Linked DNA regions of Homo sapiens: region 2 is linked to region 1. The links come from fine-mapping of genetic effects on gene expression. A gene starts in region 1. The other region holds a variant in brackets. All regions are shown on one strand. Distances are between the middles of the regions. Region 1 holds the start of PTPRG (protein tyrosine phosphatase receptor type G). Region 2 overlaps PTPRG (protein tyrosine phosphatase receptor type G).

What was found. PIP is the estimated chance that this variant, and not a neighbour inherited with it, causes the effect.
Region 2: its variant is the best candidate, but not a certain one, in a credible set for the expression of PTPRG in tibial nerve (GTEx, PIP 0.58).

What each region holds. Positions count from the first base shown.
Region 1 is chr3:61,548,353-61,564,664 of GRCh38, reverse strand. PTPRG (protein tyrosine phosphatase receptor type G) reads right to left here and starts at 3,094. Exons shown (of 30, transcript NM_002841.4): 1 at 2,293-3,094. The coding sequence starts at 2,377. RefSeq lists an enhancer at 4,317-4,992.
Region 2 is chr3:61,646,444-61,661,157 of GRCh38, reverse strand. All of the region lies in intron 1 of PTPRG (protein tyrosine phosphatase receptor type G), which reads right to left. LOC124906245 (a long non-coding RNA gene) reads right to left here and starts at 1,657. Exons shown (of 2, transcript XR_007095942.1): 1 at 1-1,657. The variant C/A (reference allele first, on the strand shown) is at 10,676.

The DNA of each region.
Region 1 (16,312 bases):
AGCTCTGATATTTTAACTTTACCTTGCTCCAAAGCCTGCTGCTCCCTCTCGGGCTGCACTTTTCCAAACCAAACCGCCCTCTTCCCTGCGCCTCCCACCACTGTCCTTTCCCTTTCCCACACCCCTCGGCTCCCGGACCAGGAAAGGGGCTATTTACCTCGCAGCGTGGGCGCGAAAAGAAAATGAGAAGACGAAAATGGTCCAAGCCCCACGAAGGCTGGTTCCCTGGCAGTCCCATTTTGGATCTCAAGCTTCCTCACACACCAGGGAAAAGAAAACCACGGTCAGCCCACTGACTGCATCCCCGAGCGCAAGAAGGACAGAAGTGGAATTGGAAATTCCTCTAATTTGCAAGGCAGCCCTCCACGACCTCCCACTGCACCCATTAAAGAGTGGCCCTCACAAAGCTCAACCCCTGTGTGCACCTGAGCCCGCTCAGTCGTCAAGTCCGTGGTAAAGCAGGGGAGACTAGAAAGGAGAGATGATTAACCCAAATACTGAGCAGTGATCTTTTAGTGAATGAAGGCAGCTGTTTCTAAGGGGAGATGTCCCCATGGCCTACACTACCGTAGAGGCCGTAGAGGCAGGACTCCAGTGGGCAAACCCCAGGCCCCAGTGTCCTACCGTAGAGGCAGGACTCCAGTGGGCAAACCCCAGGGTGAGTGTGGACGCACGTCCTAGCTCGGCCTCCGAGCTGCGTTTCTGGGCTGGAGCTCCGTGCCGCTCCGCGGGCAGGAGGATGCGCAGAGAGAAAAGGGGGTGCAGAATACCAGACGGTGTTTTCCCTTTCTGCCCCTCGAGGCCATCCCCGATTCTGCAAAGGGGGCATTCGCTGCCAGTCCCCCGAGGGGATCCCCAAGGGCGACGAGGGCTCCCGCGCGCCCTGCTCCGGGTCGCACGACGGGACTAAGGGACCCGCTGCACCAAAAACGGGCGCTCCAGCCGCCCGAGGACAGGCGTCTGTAACCAGGCAGAGCGGAGACCTCGGGGCACATTCCTCTTTTTCTTGATTCAGATAACCTCCACCTCCGGGTATGCAGGAGTTGATGGATGAGAGGGCAGAAAAACGGGGAATTCTCTGTCCTTAGGGGAGCGAGGGATGAAAAGCAAATCACCCCTTCTTCCAGCCCTTCCCCGGGCTAGGGCAGGACTTGGCCTCCACCCCAAGGGACAGCTACGAGGGAGCTCGGGGCTGCTGCCCGGGGGACCTGCAAGAGAGGAGAGGGAGGCAGCTGGCCTCTGCCCTCCCCAGGGGAGAGAGGAGGGGGAACTGCCAGCTGAGAGCTGGAAGTGGAGGGTCGCCGAGCCGCACACCGTTACGTGCGGTGATTTATTCTTATCAACGGCCAGTATTGTTCCTGTCTTAACCTGGCCAGAAAGGAGCGAGACTGGGTCTGCCAGCCGCGAACAGCCTGCAAAAGGGCAAAGATGAAGGTAGGCAGGGCGCGCGAGACAGGAAAAAAATCAGCCCCGGCGCGAACAGCAACCCGGCCGCCGAAACCGCCCCGGCCGCCGAAACCGCCCCCGCCCCCTCCCCGCGTCCAGACCCAGGCAATCCAATCGAGCAGAGCAGCGGAGGGAAAGGGCCACGGGCCGGGGCTAGGGGAGACACGGATCTCTCCGAAACCGCCTGCGCCCTGCCGTCTCACTGCGCCCAAGGAGGCTGCCTCACGCCGGCACCGAAGTGCTGCCCGCGCCCCAGCCCCCAGAGAGAGGGAGGACGCCCCCGACCCAGAACGCAGGCTGCTCCCCACACATCCTCAGTCCTCCGCAGCCAGCCTCCGACTTCCATTCCCCGAAACCTAGCCCTCCCAAAGGGATGGAGAACAGCAAAGCAAACCCCCACCTTCTGAGTTCCTTCAATACCCGCCAGAGCGAGGGGGCTCATCCCGGGCCCCCCAAACCCACAGAAGCATCCTTTCCATGGCCTCAGTCTCCCCAACCGCCCCACAACTCGAGTTCTCCCGATCGGCGACGAGTCAGCAAAGCAAGTCCCCCTTTCTCCCGATTCCAGCTCCCCAGGACCCCCAAAAGGGAGCGGGAGCAGACCCCCGCGTCCCCCAGCCCCCTCCCCGGCCAGCCCCTGCCTCCACCTTCCTCGACCACTAGCCTGCCTCCCTAAACATCATCCAAGCCAGCGGAGCAATCCTTTTCTCCTATCCGGGCGCCGGGCCACCCTCCACCCTCTCCAGGGTCTCCCGGACGGGCGCCGGAGCTCCGCGCCCAGGCGACAACTCCGCATCCCCAACGCGCGCCGGCCGGGGCCGCATCCCCTCGGCGGCCGGCACTCACCGGGGAAGCACACGACATAATGGAGCACGGAACTGGTGATTTTCAGGAACAAAATCCACCAACACGGTTCCAGTAACCTCCGCATGTCCGAAAACGCACATCGAAAAGAGGAAAGCAGGGAGGTAAACTTGTTGAATAAGTTCTTGCCTCCGTGCGAGCCTCCGCTAAGCCGGGGCGCTTCCCCGGCTCGCCCGCTCCACGGGCCCCCCGCGCTCGGCGGCCCGAGTCCCCTTGGAATCCGGGAAGCCGCCGAGCGCCCCCCGGAAAATCTCAAAAAGTGACCGGGAACGCAGAGCCACGCTGGGGACGATCCTCTCGGCGGAGAAAGGCTGCTTTCCGTTTAAAAAGGAGAGAGCCGATCGGGCAGGGCGCGGAGTCGGCGGCCGGCGGCGATGCCCCGGGCCTGGGGCAGGCAGGGACCGCGGGCGGCGGCGGCGAGCAGCCGAGGATCCCCAACTTGAGTCGGCAGCGCAGCACAGCCCGAGAGCCGGCGGGCGGCGGCGGGGCTGAGCGCGGCGCGGCGTCTCCGGGCTTCAGGCAGGCAGCTCCTTCCAGGGCCCCGGGAAGGAAGGAGGCATGTTTGCGAGAGGGGAAGGGGAGGGGAGAGGCAGGGGGAGCGGAGAGCCCCCCAAAATAGAAACGGCCGGAGGAAACGGAGGAAAACACAAAGGATCTCAGAGGGGCGCTGGGGCGAGGGCGCCTTCAGTCCATGCTCCTGAAAGTTGTGGCTCCGGCGCAGGCTGGGAAGGAACGAAGAGCGCGGGGCTGGAAACTGGCCATGCCTCCATACAGGAAGTAACATGTGAGCATGGATCCTGGCAGAGACTTTAAAGCCGGCGAGCGAAGGAGCGAGCGAACAGGGGGCGCGCGGTGGCGGCGGGGGCGCGCAGCCCGGGCCAGCTGGCGGCGGGCGCGCGCTCTCCGCGTTCTTAAAGCAGCCGCGCTTGGCTCCCGCCTTGCGCTGGGTCCCTCGGCTCTGCTCTCTCCGCGCGGCCTCTACTGGGACAGTTTGGGGACTGGGGGCGATTGTAGCCCGTGCGCGGAGAGAGGAGGGAGGCTGCCTTCTGGGGCCGGCTTGTTTTTTGCTGGATTCCCGTTGTTCGAGCTCTTAAAAGACGCCGCACGGTGCTCGGGTTTGGCGAGATCCTCCGCGCAGCTCGCGGATCCCGGACTTGAGGGGCCCCTCGCCCTGGCGAGGGGAAAGGGGGAGGGCGGACAGCTGCCTTTTTAAAGCGATGGGGTTTTCTGTTCGGCTTCACTGCCCTGGCATTTGCAGCGGTGAGGCTCACCGTCTGCGGCTCCTGTTCGCGCCTCCAACACAGCGCATTCCCCCGCCGGGAAACAAAGCCGAGCGGCCTTTGCACTCCGGCTACATTGAGATTTAATTTTTTTTTTTTTTCTTTTTCGGGCTTTCATTGGCCCAGTCCAAGGCTGGGGAAAGTGGGGGAGGGGAGGAATGTCGATCCCAGGATTGCGAAATCTAGCCCTTCCGAGCCCCGCATCCCCTTTCCCGGCGCCACGATGGATCGGTGGCGGAGTTTCCCCAACTCGCAGCTTCTCTGGAGAAGGTTCCCGCACCCCGGTTTGGCCGCGGGGAGGGCGCAGGAAGTGCGCCTCTTACACCCTGCAGGGTGAAAGCAGCGCCGCGGGGCCGGACTGATTTCCTGGCAGCTACCCGGGGAGCGGCTGCTTCTTTAGCAATCGGGGAGAGGCGTCCGGGGGAAATGGGAGGACTAGGCTTATCTGTAATGAGTTTTGTCCCTTGGCTCTCGGTAAGAAGATCTTTATCGCTTAGACTTCTAAGCGCCCTATTTTACATTCTTAACGCTGGGGCTAAAAGTGGGGGAGGCGGGCTTTCGAGTAAATGTGTAACTGAGCCAAGGTAATTAGCCGTTTGACATTTTTTGCCTAATTTTTCTGCCTGTGTTTCAAAGCGATCTTGACGTGGGATTGTTTTGTTTTGTTTTGAGACGGAGTCTCGCTCCGTCGCCCAGGCTGGAGTACAGTGGCTCGATTTCGGCTCACTACAACCTTCGCCTCCCGGGTTCGGGCGATTCTCCTGCCTCAGCCTCCCGAGTAGCTGGGACTACAGGCGCCCGCCACCACGCCCGGCTGATTATTTTTTTGGTGGTTTTTTTTGTTTGTTTTTTGTTTTATTTTGGTTTTTTTTGTAGAGGCGGGGTTTCACCGTTTTGGCAAGGCTGGTCTCGAACTCCTGACCTTGTGATCCGCCTGCCTCAGCCTCCCAAAGTGCTGAGATTACAGGCGTGAGCCACCGCGCATGGTTCTTGTGTTTTAAACGTGTCCCTGCTGTTTCATCCCAACACGGCAGGGTCCTCCACCCACCCAAACATCCCAACCGGATGCTAGGTTTTCAAATAAAGTACAGATGGTCGGAGATCCTCCCGTTCGATGTGATTAAGGAAGCATTTTCACACCCACACTTCCAAAAGAAAAACCTTTGAAAAGTTACGTATGGGATTACAAACTAATAAAAGCCAGGAAGTTCCTGGGGAGGGCCCTAGCTCTATCTTTAGCAGAACGGGGGTGAACACCCTCCCCCAGGGTGGGGAATGAGGCGAGTTTGTTTGCTTTGGAATGTGGTCCTTCCTGGTTTTATTGGAATCCTGACTTCTTTATAAAGGATTGCGAGGGCCATTTTTCTTGGAAGTGTTGTAATGAGGGATATTCGTTCCTCAAGTTAGATTACCCCAGCATCCCTGACTACCTTCTTAATGTCGAGTGATAAAATAGGAAAAACTCGTCAAATACTTGTGTCAGCGTCCTCAGGTGAGGTTTCCTCCTCTGTGAAATGGACAGTAAAAGCTGTCCTTTGTGGAATGCTTACTGTCTACCAGGCATTGTGCTGAATTCATGCCATAAACTGCTTGCTCATTCAACAAATGTATTGAGCACCTACTGTTTGAGGGACACACTGGGAACACAGCCTCGAACAAAAAGGGCAAGCCCCCATGCCTTATGGGAGCATACCTTCCTAAGTCCATGCTCCGTTCTCTCATGGAGTTCTTAAAATACTGCCAGCTGTGAGAATTATTTTCCCCATTTAATAGACAAGGAAACATGCTCAGAAGAGTACAATGATGGATCCTCAGCTAGTGGGCAGCAGAGCTGAGATTCTCAACCCAGGCCTGTTTGCCTCCACAGCTGTGATTCAAGGCAACAGAATAATGGCTTGAGAAGGCACCAAAATGTGGAATGTAAAAAAAGAGCTTCAGAGTCGGGGAAAACCTCATATGGGTTTGCAGAGTGAATTACCACTACCTTAGTAGTGTAGGAGGCCCCATGCTAAAACTTCACATCCAATTCGGTATGGACTGGTGACTGTCCTAGGACCCCAGGCTGAAGGTTACCCCCAAACTACCCTTGGAAGCACAATCCAGGCCCCACCAGTTCCTACAAAAGATAAAATTTTGCAAACATACATCACAGATGCCTTTTCATTTATTCTGCAACCAATTACAGAGCGATTCATATATAATAGACACTTTCAAGTGCTAGTCACACAATAATGACCTAGCAGTAGCCCTGCCATGCTCCTACCTGGTAATTACAATCCTAACCCAGGTGATATGGGAGCTCTATGATAACAGTGAGCAAGTTGGTGTGAAAAGCCCTGGGAGTGCCAAAGGAGGGAGAGCCTAGCTACCCTGATGGAAGATAAAAAGGCTACAAAGAGAAGATGCTGACGTTAGTAACAAATGACCCTCAAATTTAGCAGCTTAAAAAAATATATACTCATTGCCTGTCACTTTTAGAGGTGAGAAGCTGGGGCACAGTATGGCTGGGTCCTCTGCTCAAGGGCTCATCAGGCTGAAATCAAGGGATGGGCCAGGCTTTCTCATCTGGAGCTTGGGCTCCTCCTTCAAGCACATTCAGGTTATTGACAGAATTCAGATCCTTGTGGTTGTAGGACTGAGATTACTATTTTCTTGATGGCTGTTGGCCAAGGGCTGCTTTCAACTAGTGGTCTAAGCCACACGGCGCCCTCACAACATGGCAGCTTACTCCTTGAAAGTCAGCAGGAGAATCCTCCTACAGGAGTCTAGAGAGTGACCGTTTCATCACTTTTGTCATATAATGTAACCTAGTCAAGGGAGTGGCTATCCTGTCATGTTCACAGGTCCCACCCACTTTCAAGAAGAAGGAATTATATGCCAAGGGTTGGGGATCTTGGGGACCATGTTAGAATCCTGCCTACCATAGTGCTGGTGACCTATTTTGAATATAGACTGGAGGTTAAAGGCAGTAGCTTTCAAGCCAGTCTAGTTAGATTCTGATGCTACTCATATATGCATGACCATAGGCAACTTAATCACTTTATGCCTTGGCTTCCTCATTTGTAAAGTAGGAATACTATAATAACCATACATCTTCCTAAATAGAGAAGAATAAGAGGAATTAATATACATAAACTATTCAGATCAGTGCTGGGAACCTAATAAGCATTTAATAAGTATAAGCTATTACTGTTATCTGTTTACCCAGCCTATGTAATAAGAAGTGAACATCTGTTATTTTCTACCTGCTCAGCGTCCATTTCTTTTCTTCTAGTAATAGTGTCCCAGTTTTCCTTTGTGCCAGTCTCCCCAGATGGTCTTGGTGAGCCTAACCCTTTCTTCCCCTATCCCTACCTCCACCTCTCCACTTCACTGGGTTAGGTGGACACGTGCCCTAGTCCTGACCAAATGGAGCATTTCATCCCTCTGACCAGACTGGTCTAGGGATGGGCACATATTTCTAGTAGGTCCAATGAAAGTCAAACTTCCTTTTAGGTTTGCCAGGCCAGATCAACTTAAACCTCATACTGCAAGGAGGGCCCTCACTTGGGGCAAGCCCATCTGAGAATCTGACACAAGAAGAAAAAAAGAATACAGAGGTGGGGGCCAACAAATCCCTGATACCTTCATTTGAGTCCTTGAATCAAGTCATACCTGAAGCCAAACCAACTCCTTGACTTGTCAGTTACTTGAGCTAATAATTTCCTCTTATTCCTATCCCTTACGTTTTTATTCATTAAAACTGAAAACCTGAAACCTGGAACCAGTGGTGACAGATGAGTAAAATATCTACATTTTACAAAAAAGGAAGCAGGGGCTGTTAGAATTAAGTGATTTAGTTGAGGCAATTCAGACTGTAAACAACAGAAGACTCAAGCTTTTAACATTCTTCTGTATCAATCATTTATTGTTGTGTAACAAATCACTTCAAAACGTAGTAGCTTAAAACAGTAGGACAGAAGTTTGGGGTGGGCTCAGCTGAGTAGTTCTTCTGTTGGTTCTGTGTGAGGTCACTCATGCATCTATAGCACCAGAATCCAGATGCTCAGCTGGGGCTTCGTAGTCTAAGATTCCCTGACTCAAATGCCTGGCAATTCGTGCTGGCTGTTGGTTGGAGCATCTCAGACCTCACCCACTAATCTCTATAGCAGCCTGTCTCAGACTTATTTACAAAAAGATCTCAGGTAGGAGAGTGAGAGTGAAAATTGCAAGGCACCTGGAGACCTAGACTTAGTAGTTGTGTGAAATTACTTCCATTTCATTTGACTGGTCAAAGCAAGACAAGGCCAGGGCAGATTCAAGAGGAGGTGGAAATGGACTCCAGTTCTTGATGGGAGAAGCAGCAAAGTCAGGAAGCAAAAGGACATGAATAGAAAGGTAGGAGGAAATTTGTGGCCTTCTATACAAACAATCTACTTCATCTACTGTTAAAAGTGAGTAGTGCCTGTTATGGGTTGAATTATTGTGAAGTAATGTTGAAAGAAGGTATCTAACCCTTAGAAGCTCAGGATGTGAACTTATTTGGACATATGGTCATTCCAGAGGTAATGTAGTTAAAATGAGGTCCTTAGTGTGGGTCCTAATCGAATATGACTGGTGTCTTCATAGAAAAGGGAAGTTTGGGCACAGACACAGACAAGCACACAGGAAAGATGAGGGGAAGACACAGGAAGAAGACAGCCATGTGATTGGAGTGATGCATCTACAAGCCAAGGAACACCAAGTATTGCCAGCAAACACCAAAAGCTAGGAAGAGGCAAAAACTTCCCTTACAGATTTCAGAGGGAGCATAACCCTGATGACACCTTCATTTTAGATTTCTAGCCACCAGAATTGTGAGACATTGAATTCCTGTTGTTTTAAGCCATTTAGTTGGATGTACTTAGTTACATCAGCCCTAGGAAATAAATACAAAGCCCATTTACCTTTTACCCTTCGTTTGTTTTCATGTATAGACAAAACACATTTGTGACTGGGCTTTCAACTTCTCAAGTGAATGTTTGTACAACAACAACAAAACCCATTGTAATCATCCTAACTTTAAATTTTGAGGCAATGTTTATTTTAAAGAACTTAAGACTTAGCAAAGCCTATTTATTCTGAAAATATATATAACCATAGAAAATCTCTTAAGTCCCCTAATAATAACTTTTGTCATTACAAAAAGCCCTATATTCAGTGGCTGAAAGAAAATGAACATGCAGTGGCATTTTTTTTTTTTTTGAAACAGAGTCTTGCTCTGTTGCCCAGGCTGGAGTACAGTGGCACAATCTCAGTTCAATGCAACCTCCACCTCCTGGATTCAAGCAGTTCTCCTGCCTTAGCCTCCTGAGTAGCTGGGACTACAGGCGTGCACCACCACGCCCAGCTAATTTTTTGTATTTTTAGTAGAGATGGGGTTTCGCCATGATGGCTAGGCTGGTCTCAAACTCCTGGCCTCAAGTGATCTGCCTGCCTCCGCCTCCCAAAGTGCTGGGATTACAGGCGTGAGCCACTGCACCCGGCCATATAGTGGTGTTTTAATACACTATTTAACAAGTAGGATTAAGTTTGGGTGTGGTGGCTTATGCCTGTCATCCCAACATTTTGGGAGGCCAAGATGGGGGGATCACTTGAGCCCAGGAGTTCAAGACCAGCCTGAGCAACATAGTGAGACCCCAGTCTCTTAAAAAAAAAATTAGCCAAGCTTAGTGGTGTGTGGCTATACTCCCAGCTACTCAGGAGTCTGAGGTGAGAGGATCTCTTGAGCCTGGGAAATTGAGGCTACAGTGAGCTGTAATTGCAGCACTGCACTGCAGGCTGGGTGACAGAGCTAGACGCTGTCTAAAAAAAAAGGATTAAATAGTCATAGCAAATATGACTGGTAAGGCTCTTTTACATTAAAGATAGATTAAAGAAAACTACATGATCCTATCAATTAAAGCAGAAAAGGTATGTGACAAAATTCAACATTCATTCATGATAAAAACTCTCGGTTAACTAGGAAGAGAGGAGGTTCCTTAACATAATAAAGGACATCTATTAAAAAAAAACCCATAGCTAAACTTATACAAGTCTGAATTCTTTGCTTCCAAAACTGGAAACAAGGCAAGGATATTCATTTTCACCACTCTTTTTTTTTTTTTTCCTCACTCAGGGTAAATAATACATTCTCAGCACTCTTATTCAACATTATTCTGGAAATTCTAGCCAGTACAATAAGACAACAAAACAAACAAAAAAAACCGTATATATTAGAAAGCAAGAAATAAAACTGCCCCTATACAGATGACATGATTATCTGCATAGTTCCCAGTGAGTTTAGCAAGGTTGTAGGATGCAAGGTCAACCTACAACAATTATTTTTGTGTCTATATATGAGCAGCAAAAGATTGAAAACTAAAATTCAAAAAAACTCATTTACGATAAACTCCCCAAAATGAAATACTTTAGTATAAACCTAGCAACATATGTGTAGGATTAGTATGTAGAAAACTATAAGCTGCTCATGAAATAAGTCAAATAAAAACTAATTAAATGAGAAATATACTATATTCATGGGTTGGATGACATTATAGTCAAATATACATTTTCAATAAATCTATGCATTTGTGCATTTCCACTTTTTGTAGATACAGACAAGGTGATAATAAATTTATATAGAAAAGCAAAGGAACTAGACTAGCAAAGCAATTATGAAAAAGAAGTTAGAAGCCTCACATTACTTGACTGTAAGACTTACTATAAAGGTTCATTAATCAAGCCAATATGGTATTGGTGGAGTTATAGATACATGAAATAATGAAATAAAATAGAGAACCCACAAATAGGCCCACATAATATTGCCAATTGATTTTTACAAAGATGCAAAGGCAATTTCATATAGTGAGGATAGTTTTTTTCAACAAAACATATTAGAACAATTGGACATCCATATGCAAAAAAAAAAAAATCCTCAGCCTATACCTCACATCTTATGGCAAAAATTTTTTTTTTTTTTTTGAGACGGAGTCTTGCTCTGTCACCCAGGCTGGAGTGCAGTGGCGTGATCTTGGCTCACTGGAAGCGCTGCCTCCCGGGTTCATGCCATTCTGCTGCCTCAGCCTCCCGAGTAGGTGGGACTACAGGCGCCCACCACCACGCCCGGCTAATTTTTTTGTATTTTTAGTAGAGACGGGGTTTCACTGTGTTATCCAGGATGGTCTCAATCTCCAGACCTCGTGATCCGCCCGTCTCGGCCTCCCAAAGTGCTGGGATTACAGGCGTGAGCCACCGCGCCCGGCCAGCAAAATTAACTAAAATAGAATATAAGTTTAAATGTAAAACATAAAACTACAAAAAATTTAGAAGTCGTAGGAGAAAATCTTTATGTCATTGAGTTAGCAAAGAGTTCTCCAATAAGACACCAAAAGCACAATCCATAAAAGAAAAAAATGATAAATATAACTTCATCAAAATAGGATGGGTATGGGGGCTCACACCTGTAATCCCAGAACTTTGGGAGGCAGAAGCAGGTGGATCACTTGAGTTCAGAAGTTCGAGACCAGCCTGACCAACATGGTGAAACCCCGCCATCTCTACTAAAAATACAAAATTTAGTTGGGCATGGTGGCATGCACTTGTAATCTCAGCTACTCAAGAGGTTAAGGCACAAGAATCACTTGAACCTGGGAGGCAGAGGTTGCAGTGAGCTGAGATGGTGTGACTGCACTCCAGCCTGGGTGACAGACTAAGACTTTGTCTCAAAAAGAGAGAAAAAAACAAAAAAAAAACTCTGAAAGAGCACAAATTGACAAACAAATGTCACAATTTAAGGAACTAGACGAAAAAAGAACAAACCAAACCCAAAGCCAGCAGAAAAGAAATAACAAAGATCAGAGCAGAACTAAATGAAATTGAAACAAACAAACAAAAACACAAAAGATAATAAAACAAAAAGCTGGTTCTTTGAAAAGATAAACAAAATTGATAGACCATTAGCAACATTAACTTAAAAAACAAGAGAGAAGATCCAAACAAGCTCAATTAGGAATGAAACTGGAGGCAAGGCATGGTGGCTCAGGCCTGTAATCCCAGCAGTTTGGGAGGCCGAGGTGGGTGGGCCACCTGAGGTCAGGAGTTCAAGCCTGGCCAACATGGTGAAACCCCGTCTCTATTAAACATACAAAAATTAGCTGGACGTGGTGGCTCATGGCTGTAATCCCAGCTACTTGGCAGGCTGAGACAGGAGAATCGCTTGAACCTGGGAGGCGGAGGTGGCAGTGAGCTGAGATCGCGCCATTGCACTCTAGCCTGGGCAACAAGAGCGAAACTCCATCTTAAATAAATAAGTAAATAAATGAAACTGGAAATATTGCCAACAATACCACAGAAATACAAAAGATCATTCAAGGCTACTAAGTCCACCTTTACATGCACAAACTAGAAAATCTAGAGAAGAAGTATAAATTCCTGGTAACATACAACCCTCCTAGATTAAATCAGGAAGAAATAGAAATTTTGAGCAGAGCAATAACAAACAATGAAATTGAATCGGTAATAAACAAATTGCCAACAAAAAAAGTCCAAGAACAGATGGATTCACAGCTGAATTCCATCAGATATTCAAAGAAGAATTAGTGCCAATCATACTGAAACTATTTCAAAAGGTAGAGAAAGAGGGAATTCTCCCTAAATCATTCTATGGAGCCACTCATCACCCTAATACCAAGATGAGGAAAGGACATTAAAAAAAAAAAAGAAAAGAAAACCCATATCCCTGATGAACATAGATGCAAAAATCCTCAAGAAAATTCTAGCTAACTGAATCCAACAGCAAATCCGAAAAATAATACATTATGATTGAGCAGGTTTCATCCCAGAGATGCAGGGGTTGTTTAATATACGCAAATCAACAAATGTGATATATCACATAAACAGAATTAAAAACAAAAACCATATGATCATCTCAATAGACAACAGGAAAAGCATTTGATAAAATCCAGCATCCCTTTATGATAAAAACCCTCAACAAAATAGACATAAAAGGGACTTACCTCAAAGTAATAAAAGCCATATTTGACAAACCCATAGGCAACATACTGAATGGGGAAAAGTTGAAAGCATTCCCCCTGAGAACTGGGACAAGACAAGGATGTCGACTTTCACCACTTCTATTCAACATAGTACTGGAAGTCTTAGCCAGAGCAATCAGGCAAAAGAAAGAAAGAAAGGGAATCCAAATTGGAAAAGAGGAAGTCAAACTGTCACTGTTCACTGATGATATGATCATATACGTAGAAAACTCTAAGGACTCATCCAAAAGGTTCCTAAAGTCAAGCCTCAGATTACAAAATCGATGCACACAAATCAGTAGCACTGCTACACACCAACAATGACCAAGTTGAGAATCAAATTAAGAACTCAATCCTTTTTACAACAGCTGCAAAAAAGTAAAAATAAAATACCTAGGAATATATTTAACCAAGGAGGTGAAAGTTCTCTACAAGGGAAACTACAAAACACTGCTGAAAGAAATCACAGATGACACAAACAAATGGAAATAGAGTCCATGCTCATGGATGGGAAGAATCAATATTGTGAAAATGACCATACTGCTCAAAGCAGTCTACAGATTCAATGCAATTCCCATCAAAATACCATCATCATTTTTCACAGAACTAGAAAAAAATCCTAAAATTAATACGAAATCAAAAAAGAGCCCACATAGCCAAAGCAATACTAAGCAAAAAGAACAAATCTGGAGGTATTACATTACTGGACTTCAAATTATGCTACAAGGCTATAGTTACCAAAACAGCATGGTACTGGTATAAAAATAGGCACTTACACTAATGGAACAGAATAGGGAATGCAGAAATAAAGCCAAATACTTACAGCCAACTGATCTTCCACAAAGCATACAAAAACATAAATTGGTGAAAGGACACCCTATTCAATAAATGGTACTATGAAAACTGGCAAGCCACGTGTAAAAGAATGAAACTGGATCACCATCTCTCACCTTATACAAAAATCAACTTAAGATGGATTAAAGACTTGAATCTAAGACCTGAAACCATAAAAATTCTAGAATATAACATTGGAGAAACTCTTCTGGACATTGACTTAGGCAAAGACTTTATGACTAAGAACCCAAAAAACAGGCCAGGCATGGTGGCTCACGCCTGTAATCCTAACACTTTGGGAGGCCGAGGCAGGTGGAATACGAGGTCAGGAGTTCAAGACCAGCCTAGCCAACATGGTGAAACCCCGTCTCTACTAAAAGTACAAAAATTAGCTGGGCATGGTGACGCACGTCTGTAATCCCAGCTACTCAGGAGGCTGAGGCAGGAGAATCGCTTGAACCCGGAAGGCAGAGGTTGCAGTGAGCCAAGATCGCACCATTGCATTCCAGCCTGGGTGACAAAGCAAGACTCCATCTCAAACAAAACAAAACAAAAAAACAAACAAATGCAATGCAACCAAAAATAAATGAATGAGACCTAATTAAACTAACGAAAAAGCTTCTGTACAACAAAAGAAAGAATCAGCAGAGTAAACAGACAACCCATAGAGTGGAAGAAAATATTTGCAAACTATGCTTCTGACAAAGGACTAGTGTCCAGAATCTACAAGGAACCTAAACAAATCAGCAAGAAAAAAACAAATAATCCCATGAAAAAGTGGGCAAAGGACAGGAAAAGATATTTCTCAGAAGATATACAAACAGCCAAGAAACATGTGAAAAAATGCTTAACTAATCATCAGGGTAAAACCACAATGAGATACCACCTTACTCTTGCAAGAATGGCCATAATTGCTAATTTTTTTTAAATTTTATTATTATTATTTTTGGAGTCTCACTCTGTCGCCCAGGCTGGAGTGCAGTGCAGTGGCGCCATCTCAGCTCACTGCAACCTCTGCCCCCCAGGTTCAAGCAATTCTCCTATCTCAGCCTCCCGAGTAGCTGGGACTACAGGCACACGCCCCCATGTCCGGATAATTTTTTGTATTTTTAGTAGAGATGGGGTTTCACCATGTTGGCCAGGCTGGTCTCAAACTCCTGAGCTCAGGCAACCCGCCCACCTTGGCCTCCCAAAGTGCTAGGATTACAGGCGTGAGACACAGCGCCCGGCCAAGAATAGCCATAATTAAAGTCAAAAAACCATAAATGGTGGCATGGATATGGTGAAAAAGGAACACATTTACACGGCTGGTGGGAATGTAAATTAGTACAACCACTATGGAAAACAGTACAGAGATTCCTTTAAAAACTAAAGGTAGGCCGGGCGTGGTGGCTCACACCTGTAATCCCAGCACTTTGGGAGGCCGAGGCGGGCAGATCACGAAGTCAGGAGATCGAGACCATCCTGGCTAACATGGTGAAACCCCATCTCTACTAAAAATACAAAAAATTAGCCGGGTGTGGTGGCAGGTGCCCGTAGTCCCAGCTACTCGAGAGGCTGAGGCAGGAGAATGGCATGAACCCAGGAGGTGGAGCTAGCAGTGAGCCGAGATGCGCCACTGCACTCCAGCCTGGGCAACAGAGCGAGACTCCGTCTCAAAAAACAAAAACAAAAACAAAAACAAAAACAAAACAAAACAAAAAAAAACAAAGGTAAATCTATCATTTGATCCAGCAATCCCATTACTGGGTATCTACCCAAAGGAAGAGAAGTCAGTATATGAAAAAGACACATGCACACGCATGTTTGTAGCAGCACAATTTGTTTGCAGTTGCAAGGATATGGAGCCAACCTAAGTGCCCACTGACCAAGACGTAGATAAAGAACATATGGTATATATACACCATGGAATATTACCCAGCCATAAAAATGAATGAAATAACGTCTTTTGCAGCAACTTGGATGGAACTGGAGGCCATTATTCCAAGTGAAGTATCTCAGAAATGGAAAACCAAATACCGTATGTTCTCACTTATAAGTAGGAGCTAAGCTATGAGGACATACAAACATACAAAGCAATATAATGGACTGTGGGGACTCAGAGGGAGGTTAGGGGTTAGGTGAGGGATAAAAGAAAATATATGGGGTGCAGTGTACACTGCTCGGGTGATAGCTGCACTGAAATCTCAGAATTCACCATTAAAGAACTCATCCTAGGCCGGGCACGGTGGCTCACGCCTATAATCCCAGCACTTCGGGAGGCCGAGGTGGGTGGATCACAAAGTCAGGAGTTTGAGACCGTCCTGGTCAAGATGGTGAAACCCCGTCTCTACTAAAAATACAAAAAAAATTAGCTGGGCGTGGTGGCGGCGCCTGTAATCCCAGCTACTCAGGAGGCTGAGGCAGAGAATTGCTTGAACCTGGGAGGCGGAGGTTGCAGTGAGCTGAGATCGTGCCACTGCACTCCAGCCTGGGCGACAGAATGAGGCTCTGTCTCAAAAAAAAAAAAAAAAAAAAACCTCATCCTTGTAACAAAAAAACACCTGTACCTCAAAAACTGTTGGAATAAAAAATAATTGGCTGGAAGGTTAAAAAAAAAAAAAAAAAAAGGAAAAAGAAAAAAATTGGCCATGCACAGTGGCTCACATTTGTAATTGTATCATTTTGTGAGGCCAAGGCAGGAGGATTGCTTGAAGCCAGGAGTTCAGAAACAGCCTGGTCAACATAGCAAGACCTTGTCTCTACAAAACAAAAAGTAAGAAAAGTTAGCCAGGCATGGTGGCATGTGGCTATAGTCCTAGCTACTCAGGAGGCAGAGGTGAGAGGATCACTCGAGCTCAGTAGTTCGAGGATGTG
Region 2 (14,714 bases), 97 kb before region 1:
GAGGCTGCAGTAGGCTAGGAGCATGCCACTGCACTCAGCCTGGACAACTGAGCAAGACTCTTGTCTCTTAAAGAAAAAAAAAAAATTTTTAATTAGGGGGGGAAAAAGTGTCCAAACCTGTTTAATGTATTAAATTGTGTAAGGTTTTGTTTTTTGAGATGGAGTCTCACTCTATGGCCCAGGCTGGAGTGCAAGTGGCACAATCCGGGCTCACTGCAACCTCCGCCTCCCAGGTTCAAGCGATTCTCATGCCTCAGCCTCCTGAGTAGCTGGGATTACAAGGTGTGCACCACCACGCCCAGCTAATTTTTCTGTTTTTAGTAGAGATGGGGTTTCAACATGTTGGCCAGGCTGGTCTCGAACTCCCGACCTCAGGTATCAGCCCACCTTAGTCTCCCAAAGTGCTGGGATTACAGGCGTGAGCCAACGCATCCAGTCAGGTTTTTTTAATATCCAATCATCATTATCATTGTCAACCCGTAGACGCCGTGTTATACTGAACCACGTGCTGTTCTAGAAGCTTCCTCTGAAATGGTCTTTTAATCCTGATACCAACACCATGAGGTACTGCCTTTAACAAATGAGAAACTGAGGCTCAGGGAAGTTAAATGCATATATCACTCGCTAACTATGTGAACAGAGGCGAGAGGGGGCTCAAACCCAGACAGTCCAGCCTCAGTATCCAAACTCTGGACCACTATTCTATTTTCTTGTTCAGAGAGGGCTTTGGGAGACTTTGAGTTCAGGTTTACCTCCTGGTCAAAAAAAGAAGTTTAACCACACTGTGATACTTCTGTACTGCCTTTAGAAGTCACAGCAAGCTGCCACCTGCATTAAAACTCCCAAAACAATTCTGTCAGGTAGGTAAACATTCATCTCCTTAGTGTTTCCAGAATTTCATTCTTTGTGCTTTTTTCATTTTTGTTTGTTTTTTGAGACGGAGTCTCACTGTGTCGCCAGGCTGGAGTGCAGTGGCATGATCTGACCTCACTACAACCTCTACCTCCCAGGTTCAAGCGATTCTCCTGCCTCAGCCTCCTGAGTAGCTGGGACTACAGGCACAAACCACCAGGCCCAGCTAATTTTTGTATTTTTAGTAGAGACAGGGTTTCACCATGTTGGCCAGGATGGTCTCTATCTCCTGACCTCGTGATCCGCCTGCCCTGGCCTCCCAAAGTGCTGAGATTACAGGTGTGAGCCACCGCGCCCGGCCAGAATTTCATTCTTTCTCATACTATGTTCAAAGTTTCCACCATAGCCACATTCCCCCTGAAAAACTCTAGTTTTCCTTATTTAAAAAAAACCATTCATTTCTTCTAATTAAATTTATTTTTAAAGGAAATTGTGTATCACATCCAGGAATTTAAAAACTAGTATTATTTGGTTTAGGTAAATCGGTTATGAAAAGTAATAATCAATGTATCATGACACTCTCCCACTGCACCCAGACATGACTTCAGAATCCTTCTCCATACAGTGGTCTAAGCAGTCTCTATCCATTAATCATCAATGACACTCAAAATGCAATCTACTGGGTATACCACATGGAATCTAATACACTCTTCAGAGAAGGAACATGACACTCAAAGGTTACCAAGAAAGTGTTTATCTTCCTAAGATTTTTTGGGAAATGAACACTCAAAATCAGGATCCAGACCCCTACCTTCTCTTCTGACTCTCCTTCCTGGTCACCCCACTGTCTGGACAAACCTGCAAAGGCTTTTTCACTTTTAAGAAGTGTACACAGCCTCATCAAACTATCTTCTTCTCCAGTGAAGCAGAATGCAGTCAGTCAAGAGCTCCCGAAAATTGAACAAGAAAATCCTCAACTGAGCAGCACTGTTTGGACTTGCACCATCAGTGCCTTTGTCGATGAAAGAAAACATACATTGTATATGCCTATATGAAGCCCTGAGAACATCTATTCAGGCTGACGGCTATGGAGCTACAAGAATAAAACCATCAGCATCCTGTCTGATGTTCATCAGGCCATGGCAAAAGGCCCTTAAAAGCAGGGATTACCAAAGGCTTTCAGGCTAGAGGGGCCCCAAGGTGTGTCTGCTAGGTCTTGGGCACTGTCCAAAAAGGGGAACAGGGGCAGGGGCAGGGGCAGGGGCAGGAGAAAACAGCCGAACTCATGCTCCTAGGTAGAAGGCTATCAGCAAAAATTTCCAAAGACTTCCTCCAAAGCAAGCCATGAGAACCAGTGCTACATTCCTGGTCTGAACACAGATTCAGAAGTGAAGTTCCAAGGGCATGGTGGCCAGAATCTATAATGTGTCAAATTTTTACAGGCGTATAACTATGTTTCTACTTGAAGATGGTCTTTTTCTGGCTTTGGCCAAAAAATACGGACCTGGGAGCACTAGATCATGGCCATGAGTGTCTAGCAAACTCATCCTTTCATTCTATAAATACTTCACCTAGTAGGTGCTGGGTGCTGAGACAGAGCAGTGAACAAGACCAATCAAATCCTTAACTCGCAAAGAACTTGTATCCTAGCTGGGAAAATAAACAACAAAACAAGCATACACTTATCTCGGGAATAAATGACAGAAAGAAAACAAGACTTGAAAATAAAAGTGTGATGTGGATGAGATGGGGAGAATAAAACACCAGGGAGCTAAGTTAGACATTAGATCCCTATTTTCAAGATAGAAAAAGGAGCTCAAATTGTTATCTAACTTTCCCAAGGTCACAAAAAATAGATGAGGGCAGAGCTGGTACCTGAACCTGTAGCTATCTGGCTATGGGACCAACCAGGCTCTCCACTGTGACTCCACGTTGCCTCCTCTAACCTTGTACCTGAGATCCTGAGACCTCACCTAGCCACTGTCCTAGGACACCGTCTCATCAGGGACATCTGAATTCATAATGTCCAGCTGCAGTGTGACCAGTCCTGAATCCACAGGCACCGGGTGCCTGCTTGCATCAGGCCAGAACATTCCTATTCTGGCAACTTTCGCAGCCCCTGAGCTTGAAGACAACCAAACCGTCAAATATGTGCCAGAACAATGACCTGAACAGTACATGCAGATTCAATTCCAAATCTAGAAATCAGAGTTAGGTCCTTCCCATTTCATCCCATGGCCTGGAGCTCTTATACTTCCCAAACATTTTCATGGAGTGTGTCTGTCCATAGGGTGGGTGCCCAGTGTGTAGGGAAGCACCATAACCACTGTCCACATGCACACTCATGTCACCCACAGCAGCACAACCAGGGTCACACTGCCACAGCTGCTTAGCAGCCCTCTGTTTAACAAGCAAAGTACAAAGCATCTTCCCCGCTGATGCCTGCTATCGATCAACTTAAGGACAAAGAGAACCAGCTTCCGCAGCACTCTCAGCAGCCATGGGAACAGCTCCCACTTTTTAAGCGTGGGAACTCTAAATGCTCAGTTGTAAATAACTGCTTTAAAGCCTACTGATCCTTTCATTTATCATCAATTGGTTTCATTTTGAGCAAAGAAAGTTGAAGGCATGAGGGACGGCACATACAGGAGACACTAGGGCACAATGAATCCCAAGAAAACAAATCAAAGGCATCATCAATAATTCAGCTACAAGCATGTGCCAGAGTTGAGAACACCTCCTGGGTTCAACTGATCCTCCCTCCTCAGCCTCCTGAGTAGTGGGACTACAGGAGCTCACCATCATGCCCAGCTTATTTTTTTATTTTATTTTGTGTAGAGACGGGGGCTCTTGCTATGTTGCCCAAGCTAGTACCAAACTCCTGGCCTCAAAATGGAGCACCTTGCCTTTGGGAGAACATCAAAAGCAGGATGGTCTCTCTGGTCCTCTCTCATCCCTTCTCCCCCTGAAACTGGTTATAAAACTTAACTGACCTTCCCCTGAAAGTAGGTCATAGTCTCACCCTCATTCTAGAGAGGTCCTCCACATGCCCAGAGGAAAGGAACGTCCTTATTTCTGTGAGACACCAAGAAGAAATTGAACAAAACAAGCCTTGCTGGCTCCCCTCCACCCCCACAGTTTATTACCGGTAGACAATAATACCCCTTTGTCCTCCAATCATACTTTGGCACCACTGTCCATAAAAATACAGTTTTCCCCGTTGCTTTGGGTCTTCATTTCTGAAAACTCCTGTGACACGTAAAACTGATATTCAATAAATATGCTTGCTTTTCTCTTGTTAATCTGTTATGGGGGCCTCAGCCATGAACTTTTTGATGTGTAAGGGAAAGGAATCTTCTCTCCCCTACACAGGTTCTAGAATGTCAGCTCTGTGCAGGCAGGGATTTGTTCACCACTCTATCCTGGGTGCCTGAAACAAAGGGGCCCGGCATATGGCTGGAAGAAAATATCTGGAGAATAAGTAAAAACATTTTTTATAGTAGCCCCAAATCGAAAACAACTAAAGGATGTGAGTCCAGAAAGCAAAGAACAAGAAGCTAAGGAAAATATCTTCAATCTACAAGAATGTTGGACATGACCCAGGCAACCTATCTCCTAAAAAGTAAAATTGACATTCCAGAATCCCAACAGACCCATCAAATGCAATCAGGTAAATGAACTGTTAGAATGCCGAACCAAGAATACGCTTGGAGAAGAAATTCCTAAAAGTTAATTTTAAAAATAATGTTGCCAAAGGGGAATGATTTGCAGTGGTACCAAGTAATTGGCACTGGTAACTCAGACTGTGTCTCTTCTTTGCTCTGGAAATCCACTCATCACAAGAGTATTCCCTTAAAATGCATTCCTGGTTAGGGCTTATTTTATGAAACGGTCAGTTTTTAACTATTCATATGTAAATTGGGGGCTATGGAGGCATTTCCCTACTAAATTTGCTAATCCCTGAGACAGAGACCACTTCTGTGTCACCTCACCTTCTGCATCAAATGAGGGATGCTCACACACTCAGAAGGAAAGAAGCCCTTTCTTGTTTTTCTTATTTATTTATTTTTTTAAGAGACAGGGTCAGGCTCTGTTGCCCAGTCTGGAATACAGTGGTACAATCATAGCTAACTGCAGCTTCAAACTCCTGGGTTCAACTGATCCTCCCTCCTCAGCCTCCTGAGAAGTGGGACTACAGGAGCTCACCACTATGCCCAGCTTATTTTTTCATTTTATTTTCTTTAGAGATGGTCGGGGGGGGGGGGGTCTTGCTATGTTGCCCACGTTGGTATCAAACTCAGGGCCTGAAGCAATCCTCCCACCTCAGCTTCCCACAAAGGGCTAGGATTACAGGTATAAGCCACTGAGTCTGACTCTTTCATGAAGTAAATTACATCTACACTTAAGAGTTAAACAGGCCAGACACAGTTTCACAATTGGTTGGCCAAGACAGGAGAATGGCTTGAGACCAGGAGTTCAAGACCAGTCTAGGCAACATTGGGAGATCCTATATCTACAAAAAAAATTTAAAAATTAGCCAGGCATGATGGCATATGCCTGTTGTCCTGGCTACAGGGAAGGCTGAGGCAGGAGGATCACTTGAGCCCAGGAGTGAGCCAGGAGTGAGCTGTGGTGAGCCGTGATCCTGCCACCACACTCCAAGCTGGGTGACAAAGTAAGACCCTGTTTCTAAAAAAATACAAAGTAAAAGAGCCAAAATATGCAACCACCCATTAGTACAAGTAACTTGAAGATACATATCTTCAAGAAAAAGTTACAACTGAGTATAACTGCCACTCCTTCTTGACTGAGATGTGTCAATTATAATACTCATTTAGTCCATATTTCTGAACATCTACTATGTGCCAGGCAGTATCCTGGGACCATATGATAAAAGAATAAGTGAAACTGATAACAATCCCTGAAGATCTTAATCTACAGGATTAATGAATATCATGAACAGGTCAACAAATAAGTGAAAAACGTAACTTGCAAATGTGGTTAAATGCTGGGAAGACAATAATCAGAGATGAAATAAGGACAAAGAAGAGAGAGGAAATCATACCTATTTCCTGTCATTGAGAGGCAGCACTGTGCCCTTGTACAACTCTGGACAATCTGGCAGGGGACTCGGCGACTCAACCATTCCACCTGCAGGATGACTCACCAGGCAACCAGGACTCCTGCCGCACACCTCAATAAGCTGATAAAGCGCAGGTGGCCGGGTGCGGTGGCTCACGCCTGTAATCCCAGCACTTTGGGAAGCCGAGGTGGGTGGATCACCTGAGGTCAGGAGTTTGAGACCAGCCTGGCCAACATGGTGAAACCCCGTCTCTACTAAAAAAAAAATACAAAAAGTAGCTGGGCATGGTGGTGGGCACCTAAAATCCTAGCTACTCAGGAGGCTGAGGCACAAGAATCTCTTGAACCCGGGAGGCAGAGGTTGCAGTGAGCCGAGATTGCACCACTGCACTCCAGCCTGGGCGACAGAGTGAGACTTTGTCTCAAAAAAAAAAAAAAAAAGAAAAAGCACAGGTAGCCTTCCTTTGTCAGCAGCATAGAAGGTCAACCCATTAAGCCCTGGGCTGCATACAAGAAAGCAGGATAGAATTATATTATAGGCCAGGCATGGTGGCTCACGCCTGTAATCCCAGCACTTTGGGAGGCTGAGGCGGGCGGACTGCCTGAGCTCAGGAGTTCAAGACCAGCCTGGACAACATGACGAAACCTCATCTCTACTAAAAATACAAAAAACTAGCTGAGCATGGTGGCACATGCCTCTAGTCACATCTACTCAGGAGGCTGAGGTATGAGAATTGCTTGAGCCTGGGAGGCGGAGGCTGCAGTCAGCTGAGACTGCACCACTGCACTCTGGCCTGGGGGACAGAGTGAGACCCTGTCTCAAAAAAAGAAAGAAAGAAAAAAGAATGATATCATAAATATATATTCACCTAACAACAGAGCCTCAAAGCATATGAAGCAAAAACTAACAAAATTCCACCTATATCTCCTAAATGTGCTATGAAGACTTGAGAACGCACATCAATTATCTAGCATATGGGTGCAGGGGGTGGCGGGCAGGTGTTGGTTAAAGCACAAGAGCAGCCCCATTCTCTTGAATGACTCCCACATCCCAGACTCCACGGTAAATGCTATTCACACACGATTCATTTCTCACCACAACACTATAAGGCACAAGAGTAAACTGAGGTCCGAAGAGATTAGGTAATTTGTCAAAGTCAAAGTGCCCTGGAAGGGCATGTATCTCATGTTCCCTCTATGCCTCTCAGATGTGGCACTGGGCTTCCCCTGGAGCCATCCATGAAAAACAGGACAAAAAAGACACCTAACAGATGATGTACCTTAATTAGCCTTACATGTTCCCTTACAGTTCCCCGCGCCCCCCACCGCTCCCCGCTTAACAACCTGCACACATGCTGCTTCTAGTAGATTCTGATTCATGCTGATTTCACTAGATAACTGGGAACAGTGTGGGCCAAGGTGAATTCTAATCTCACAGGCGAGCAGATTCTAGAGCCTCCCTTTCATAGAGGCTGGGCCCTTATACAGGAAGAGGTTACCCTGATGAGCAAAGAAAGTTGAAAGGGCAGGGGACAACACATCTGAGAAAATGGCAGGGCACGACGAATCCTAACAAAACAAAGACATATGCAATGATTTAGCTACACATACGCAGCTGGACTGTAAGATCCATGAGGACAGGGATCAGCCTTGTTCACTGTTCTATCCAAGGTACCTGAAGCAGGGGTGCCTGGCATACAGTCTCATGTACATAAATACGTGAGGACTAAAAGCATTATTTAGAACAAAAAAAAAAATGAAAACAAATAAAATGTCCAACATTAAAATGACAGAAAAGTAGACACTGGCCCATTTATGGAGGATCACTATTGCAGCTGCTAAAAATGACAAGGAACAGGAGACAAATATGCCACCCATTATGAACCATGCTGGAAAAAAAAAGGGGGATAATTTAAAGAAATGGGGAAATGTTCACAATATAAAATGAAAAAGTAGATTGCATAACATCAGTCACAGACAGGATGTCTTGACTAACCCTATATGTACAATACGTCTTTCCTATGTGTAATATGTATAGAAAAAAAAAACTATCAGGATGTAGTGACATTAAGTCACATTCATCTCTACATTGTGAGATGATTTTTTAAATTGTCTCTTCTTTTGGCTTATAAGTACTTTTAAAAAAAATTACTTTTCCCTTATCTTATATGTACTTATAAAATGTTCTGCAATGAATACAAATCTGTTGTTTGGCATAATTTCTACCCCCATGATATCTGGTGGTTGTAGTGTAAATCTCCACTCCATAGCATTTTGATACAAAGATTCTGCAGCTGCCAAACAGGCTTCTGACCCTTCACCCAGTGACAAATAGCTGGCAGTTACATTAGAAGAATGGTTCTCTATTAGGGGAGAATCCCCCACTTGCCAGAAGGCATTTGACTACCCCTGGATGTTCCAACTTAGGAGGATGCTAGTGGCATCCAGTGAGTGGAGGCCAGGAATACTACTACACATCCTACAATGCACAGAAGAGCTCCAGCAACACAGAACTATCGGGGCCCAAAAATACCACTAGTGCTAAGGTTGAGAATCCCTGTTTAAAATGAAGAGCCTGAGGATGTATCTTAAATATAAATAAGAAAAGAAACATTAACAACAATATTAAAATATTGTAACTAGAGGAACAAGGTTCTAGAAGGGCAGAGAAGGGGAACATTTGCTCCACTGAATATCCCTTAACCCTAGCCCAGTCCATGACCCAAAGAAAGAGCTCAACAAGTGTCCTGGCCATCAGGGAAAATAGATTGCACCGTAGAGGAAATTCTAATTTCAGAGTCAGGCAGAGGTAAACTTGAAGATCAGCCCTGTCAATGGCTAACACACTCCGCATCTGCAGAATGAGGAATAGAGCACTATTTATTTGATTCTTCATTTTATTTTTTATTTACTTACTTTGAGACGGAGTCTCGCTCTGTCTCCCAGGTTGGAGTGCAGTGGCGATCTGGGCTCGGTGCAACCTCCGCCTCCCAGGTTCAAGCAATTCTCTGCCTCAGCCTCTCAAGTAGCTGGGATTACAGGCATCCACCACCATACCCTGCTAATTTCTGTATTTTTAGTAGAGATGGGGTTTTACCATCTTGGCCAGGCTGGTCTTGAACTCCTGATCTCGTGACCCACCTGCCTCAGCCTCCCAAAATGCTGGGATTACAGGCATAAGCTACTGCGCCTGGCCTACTTTTATATATATATTGAGATGAAGTCTCGCTGTGTAGCCCAGGCTGGAGTGCAGTGGTGTGATCTCTACTCACTACAACCTCAGCCTCCCAGGTTCAAGTGATTCTCCTGCCTCAGCCTCCCGAATAACTGGGACTACAGGTGTGTGTCACCATGCCCGGCTAAGTTTTGTATTTTTAGTAGAGACGGGGTTTCGCCAGGTTGGCCAGGCTGGTCTTAAATTCCTGACCTCAAGTGATCCACCTACCTCGGCCTCCCAAAGTGCTGGGATTCCAGGCGTGAGCCACCACACCTGGCTATTTGATTCTTACATGACTTACATGGATCAATATATATAAAGCTTCTGACACTCTCCAAGGTACACCAGAGGTGCAGTATTCACTGGTGGCCTACAAAGTAACACCCAGAAAACTTCCAACATGGTGCACGGAAATTGCTTAGCTTCAAGCTCAACACCAATGAATCCAGGTCAATTCCCACATGGACCCATTATCATCTTCTAAAGAAATCTGTGTCTCATGAACTAAGTCTAGCCCTAAGGCTTCATCAGGCCCGTTCAGGATAAACAACCACTAGTCATGAGCAACTGTGTGAGCATATAAATCAATGGCTGCTATCATCTATCACTAGTATTTTCTTGTGAAACTTAAAAAAAAAAAAGATTATTAACAATGGGACAAAATGTCAACGACAACTTTTTTCTTTAAGTAGAGATCCAAAGGGATAAGATTACCTCTGCTCAGACTGAAATCAATACACAAGAACTTAATCAACTAAACCCTACCAAGATACCAGATGGTCTCTTAAGTATTTTGGGATTTTTATCTTACAGCCAACACACCCATCTGGTAGTATATAGAAATTATGTTTTTCCTTTAAAAAAAAAAAAAAGAGAAAGAGTGTCCAAATACATCGTGTAATTGAGGTTGATGAACAGGGTTCTAGAAGTGTAGGCAATGAGGAAAAAAATATAAACATACACACAGATAAATGTGTAATTTATCGGAGCCATTAGAGTCAGCAGAGTCATATAAACTTTTACTAGACAACTCCACAGCAAAAAATATAGGTTCAAATTGCTGAATCATTGTTCACATGTAAATAGGATTCCTAAAACTTTTATTGGTAGTAAAAATTAGTTTACATCATAAAGTAAACAAGAAAAGCAAGCTATAAAACCAAACAGTGGTAAAAGACCCTCAAATGACACATTTCACCAAAAAACTCATTTTGCAAATCGAGAGTTAAACAATTAAGTGTTTGAAAATGCTTACATTTGAAAATGAAAACCATCACATTAATAAATTTTAAGATAAAAGTTGACTGTGCGTTTGATGAGGAAGTGTGTATTTGATTAAATCTTCACACTAGTGTTAGGAAACATTTATTCCATGGAAAAGAGCACTCTGGTTAGAAACACATGGGCTCAAACACAAAACTTCTTTCTTACTCAGTTATCATCCTGAGGTCTACGGTCTTCCCTGTGAAAACCGCAGGCACATCCAATGGTTGGATAACTATTGCATCCTAATAAAATCAGGTG[C/A]CAAGTTTCCCTTCTCCTGGCCGGGACTCAATCTCTTATGAGCTCTTTTTTGGCTGCTTCTCAACAGTTTTGTGCGGAACTCGTCACTGTGTTCTTCGAACATGAGTCTCATTCCACAAAAATCTTGTACTACACATTCCCACTGGTGTTCCTAGGTGAGTGGCAATGGTAGATTCTGTAATACCTCGCTGGCATTCAACATTTTTAGGATCAAGGTACATGGTGCCCCCACCCTTGGCTTCCTTGATTTGGTTTTGTAACCCTTATGTATTAAAAGATAATTTCTCAGCAGCCGTGTACAGCTCTGGTTTTCACACATTCAATATGTATCACTGCATTTGTACAGGGGAAAAAAAGTACCAGGCTTTTTAATCCCTGGTGCTTATGGGTTTTATTTTTCCTTCTGGGAAGAAAAGGTGGAAGAATTAAGGACAAGGAGAAATCGAGAGAAACCAGAGACTCCCCTTATTAGGTTTAGCAGTAAAACTCAGTGCCCTGTTTATTAGGACCTTCAGGCTACCATTTGTAAAAGATGTTCTTGATGGTCTGCTTTCCACCAGCAGATTATAGCAAGTCTGTTGAAATAATGAGCTCAGGGACATAAGGCAGGATTCAAACCCCAAACCAAGGCTTTACCAATTTCAAGCCCTGTCATCAGCCACATGATCTTGAGCAAGTAACTAAAACTTTAAGTGTCAGTCTGTGCATCTATACGACAACCTATTTCTAAGAGGAGCCAATGTAATATAAGCAAAGTGCCTTGCATTATACTCAACACAATAAATCCAAGTTGTCATATTATGCTGATTTAGCCCTGCTGTGATTTGAAGCCTGCATGTCTCCTCCAAAACGTAGGTGTTGTCAATGTGATGGTATTAAGAATCGGGATCTTTACGAGGCAATTAGGCCATGATGGCTCCTCCCTTGTTAATGAGATTAAGAACCATATAAAAGAGTCTTCAGATAGTGTTTGGTTCACTTGTTTTTCCACTTCTGCATGAGAGGTCACAGCATATCTTCCTTAGAGGATGCATCAATAAGGTGCCACCTTGGAAGCAGAGAAAAACCCTCACCAGACAGCTGAACCTGCTGGCACCTAAATCTTGGACTTCCCAGCCTCCAGAACTGTGAGAAATAAATTTATATTGTTTATAAATTACCAAAGCCAGGCACAGGGGCTCATGCCTGTAATCCTAGTACTTTAGCAGGCTGAGGTGGGAGGATCACTTGAGCCCAGGAGTTCAGGACCAGCCTAGGCAATACTGTAAGACCTCATCTCTTAAAAGAAAATAGAAAAAGGAAGGAAGGAGGGAGGGAAAGAAGGGAGGGAGGGAAGTGAAAAGGGAAAAGGGAGGGAGGGAGGGAGGAAGTAAAATAAATTAACCAGTCTCCGGCATACTCGTGTAACAATGAAAAACAAACTTAGACAAACCCAAAGTTAACACTAGGTTTTTTAACCTTGGTAATAAACTCACATATGACTGTTCTTTGACACTGCTATACTATATGAAACGTCTATTTGCTTCTTCACTTTTGGATTTCCTGAGACAGCTCAAGGAAAAGGCATTATTTTTTCATGTAAATAAATAATTGCTTCAACAAAGATCAGAATCTTTAAAGTGGAGATTGCCTCACCAGCAGCCCCCAACCCTCATTACTTTTCTTATTTGGAGTTTGAAATATACACGGAGCACAGAAAACATTCTCTTGGGAAACATTCAAGCAACATGCCATTATTCTTCCAATACAAGGTAATAGAACCTAATAGAAAAATGTCTGCCCTCTCTCTCTGACTGTATTACAGATGGCAGCCAAATGAGTGTGTGTTCTGCAGCAGAAAGCCTGGGAAGTGCAGGCATTAGACGTTCCCTTGGTGCATCAGCCTGGGGTCACCCCACTCAAACACCCTGCATTTAGCTGCCAACAAAAAATGAAATGCCTTTGTCTCAGGACAGAGGAACTGAGGTATTTCAAGATGTGTAATTCCAAAAGAAAACCTCTCTTTTGCTGCCCAGTTTTCATTTCCCCTCGGGTGAAAATGTGTAGCCTGGTAGGAGCAAGCTAGGTGTCTTCCACCTGGATCCTTGGTGCCTATGTGTGAAACACAGGAAGGCATTCAAGGCAGGAAAGAATGGGGTCCTGGAGGGATGCCAGGGAATCCGCAGAAGTTAGGTGCTGCTAAGTCCAACTAAGATGCAGTCATGAGACCTTATGAATGAAACAAGGATTGCCTGGGTAACGAATGGACAACTATGTTAACGAATCTCCTAATATGTTATTTTAATCTCAGAGTGTCTTCATCACCATGGGGGTCCACAACACCCTGCAGTAGTCTCCTTTACTAATTCCACTGTCAGGATATTCTCAGGTGACAATGCATAGGACTGGTTTAATCAAACATGAAGCCTCCACTTATCATGAAGTTGCAGCCTGTCTTGGGCTTCAGGCATATCAAAAGCAAGACAGAAAAATAAAACCCAAGAGGACAGAGGATTCACGGATGGGTACAAGGGAGTGTCAGTAGATAGACAAGCCATAACGGGCCTCACAGGCCGCAATCACAATCAGGACACTTCGTAAGGGAACATCTCAAGGCATCAAGGGCACCAAACATTCAGTGGTTTCAGAAAAGCAGCACCAGCTCCAAGGTCAGAGTTTGAATTGCTAACTCTTTTTTTTTTTTTTTTTTTTGAGACGGAGTCTCACTCTGTCACCCAGGCTGGAGTGCAGTGGTGTGATCTCAGCTCACTGCAAGCTCCGCCTCCCAGGTTCACACCATTCTTCTGCCTCAGCCTCCCAAGTAGCTGGGACTACAGGTGCCTGCCACCACGCCCGGCTAATTTTTTTGTATTTTTTAGTGGAGACGGGGTTTCACTGTGTTAGCCAGGATGGTCTCGATCTCCTGACTTCGTGATCCGCCCGCCTCGGCCTCCCAAAGTGCTGGGATTACAGGCGTGAGCCACTGTGCCCGGCCAATTGATAACTTTTAATGAGCTGGATGAACCTGAACAATTACAGGATCATCTAGCTCATTAATCGCACATACCATGTGGCTCAGTTTCCTTCTTTAGAGAAACAATGGTATTGACCCTCCTTTGGGGAGTTGTTATGAGGCTTAAATTAGATAGTATGTGTATGGTGCTTAGTATAATATCTGGCATGTAAGAAAACTGCAATTCCTCTTTTGTTTAAAAATTAATCCAGATAATGGTGTGAAAGACGGTAAAATGAAAGACAGGAAGAGCTGTTCAAACACTGCCAATTCCAGTTATCACGTGCTTAGTAAAGGAGAATAGTCTGGCAGTTTCCCATAAAACTAAATATGTACTTACTATACGACCCAGCAATGGCACCCTTGAGCATTTATCTCAGAGAAATAAAAACTTAGGTTCACTCAAAAACTATGTACACAAATGTTCATAAGCAGCTTTATTTGTAATAGCCCCAAACTAGGAAAAGCCCAGATGTTCTTCAACAGATGAACGGATAAACAAACTGCCACATCCCTACCATGGAATACTGCTCAGGAATAAAAAGGAACAAACAACTTGGATGGGTCTGGGGAGCTACACTGAGTAAAGCAAGCCAGCACCAAAAGGTTATGTACCGTATGATTTCCTTTATATAATGACATTCTCGAAATAACAATGGGTTAGTAATTGCTAGAGGTTAGGGATGTGGGGGTGGCTATCAAGGGGTAGCATATGAGATCTTTGCAGTGATGGAACTGTCCTGTATCTAGATTGTGATGCTGGTCACACAAATCTACACATATGAAAAAAATGCATAAAACTATACATACACATACACACCACAAACACCACTGAGTAAATACAAATAAGTGCATGTTAAACTGGTGAAATCTGAATAAAGTCTGTGAATTGATAATGTCAGTTTCTTGGTTTTGATATTACACTATAAGTATATAGAATGCATCATTGGGGGAGGCTGGGGAAAGGGTACAAAGAACTCCTCTAGGGGAATAATGTTTTGAATGGGAGCATTTCTAGATGTGTAATTCCAGAAGAGTTTTGGACAA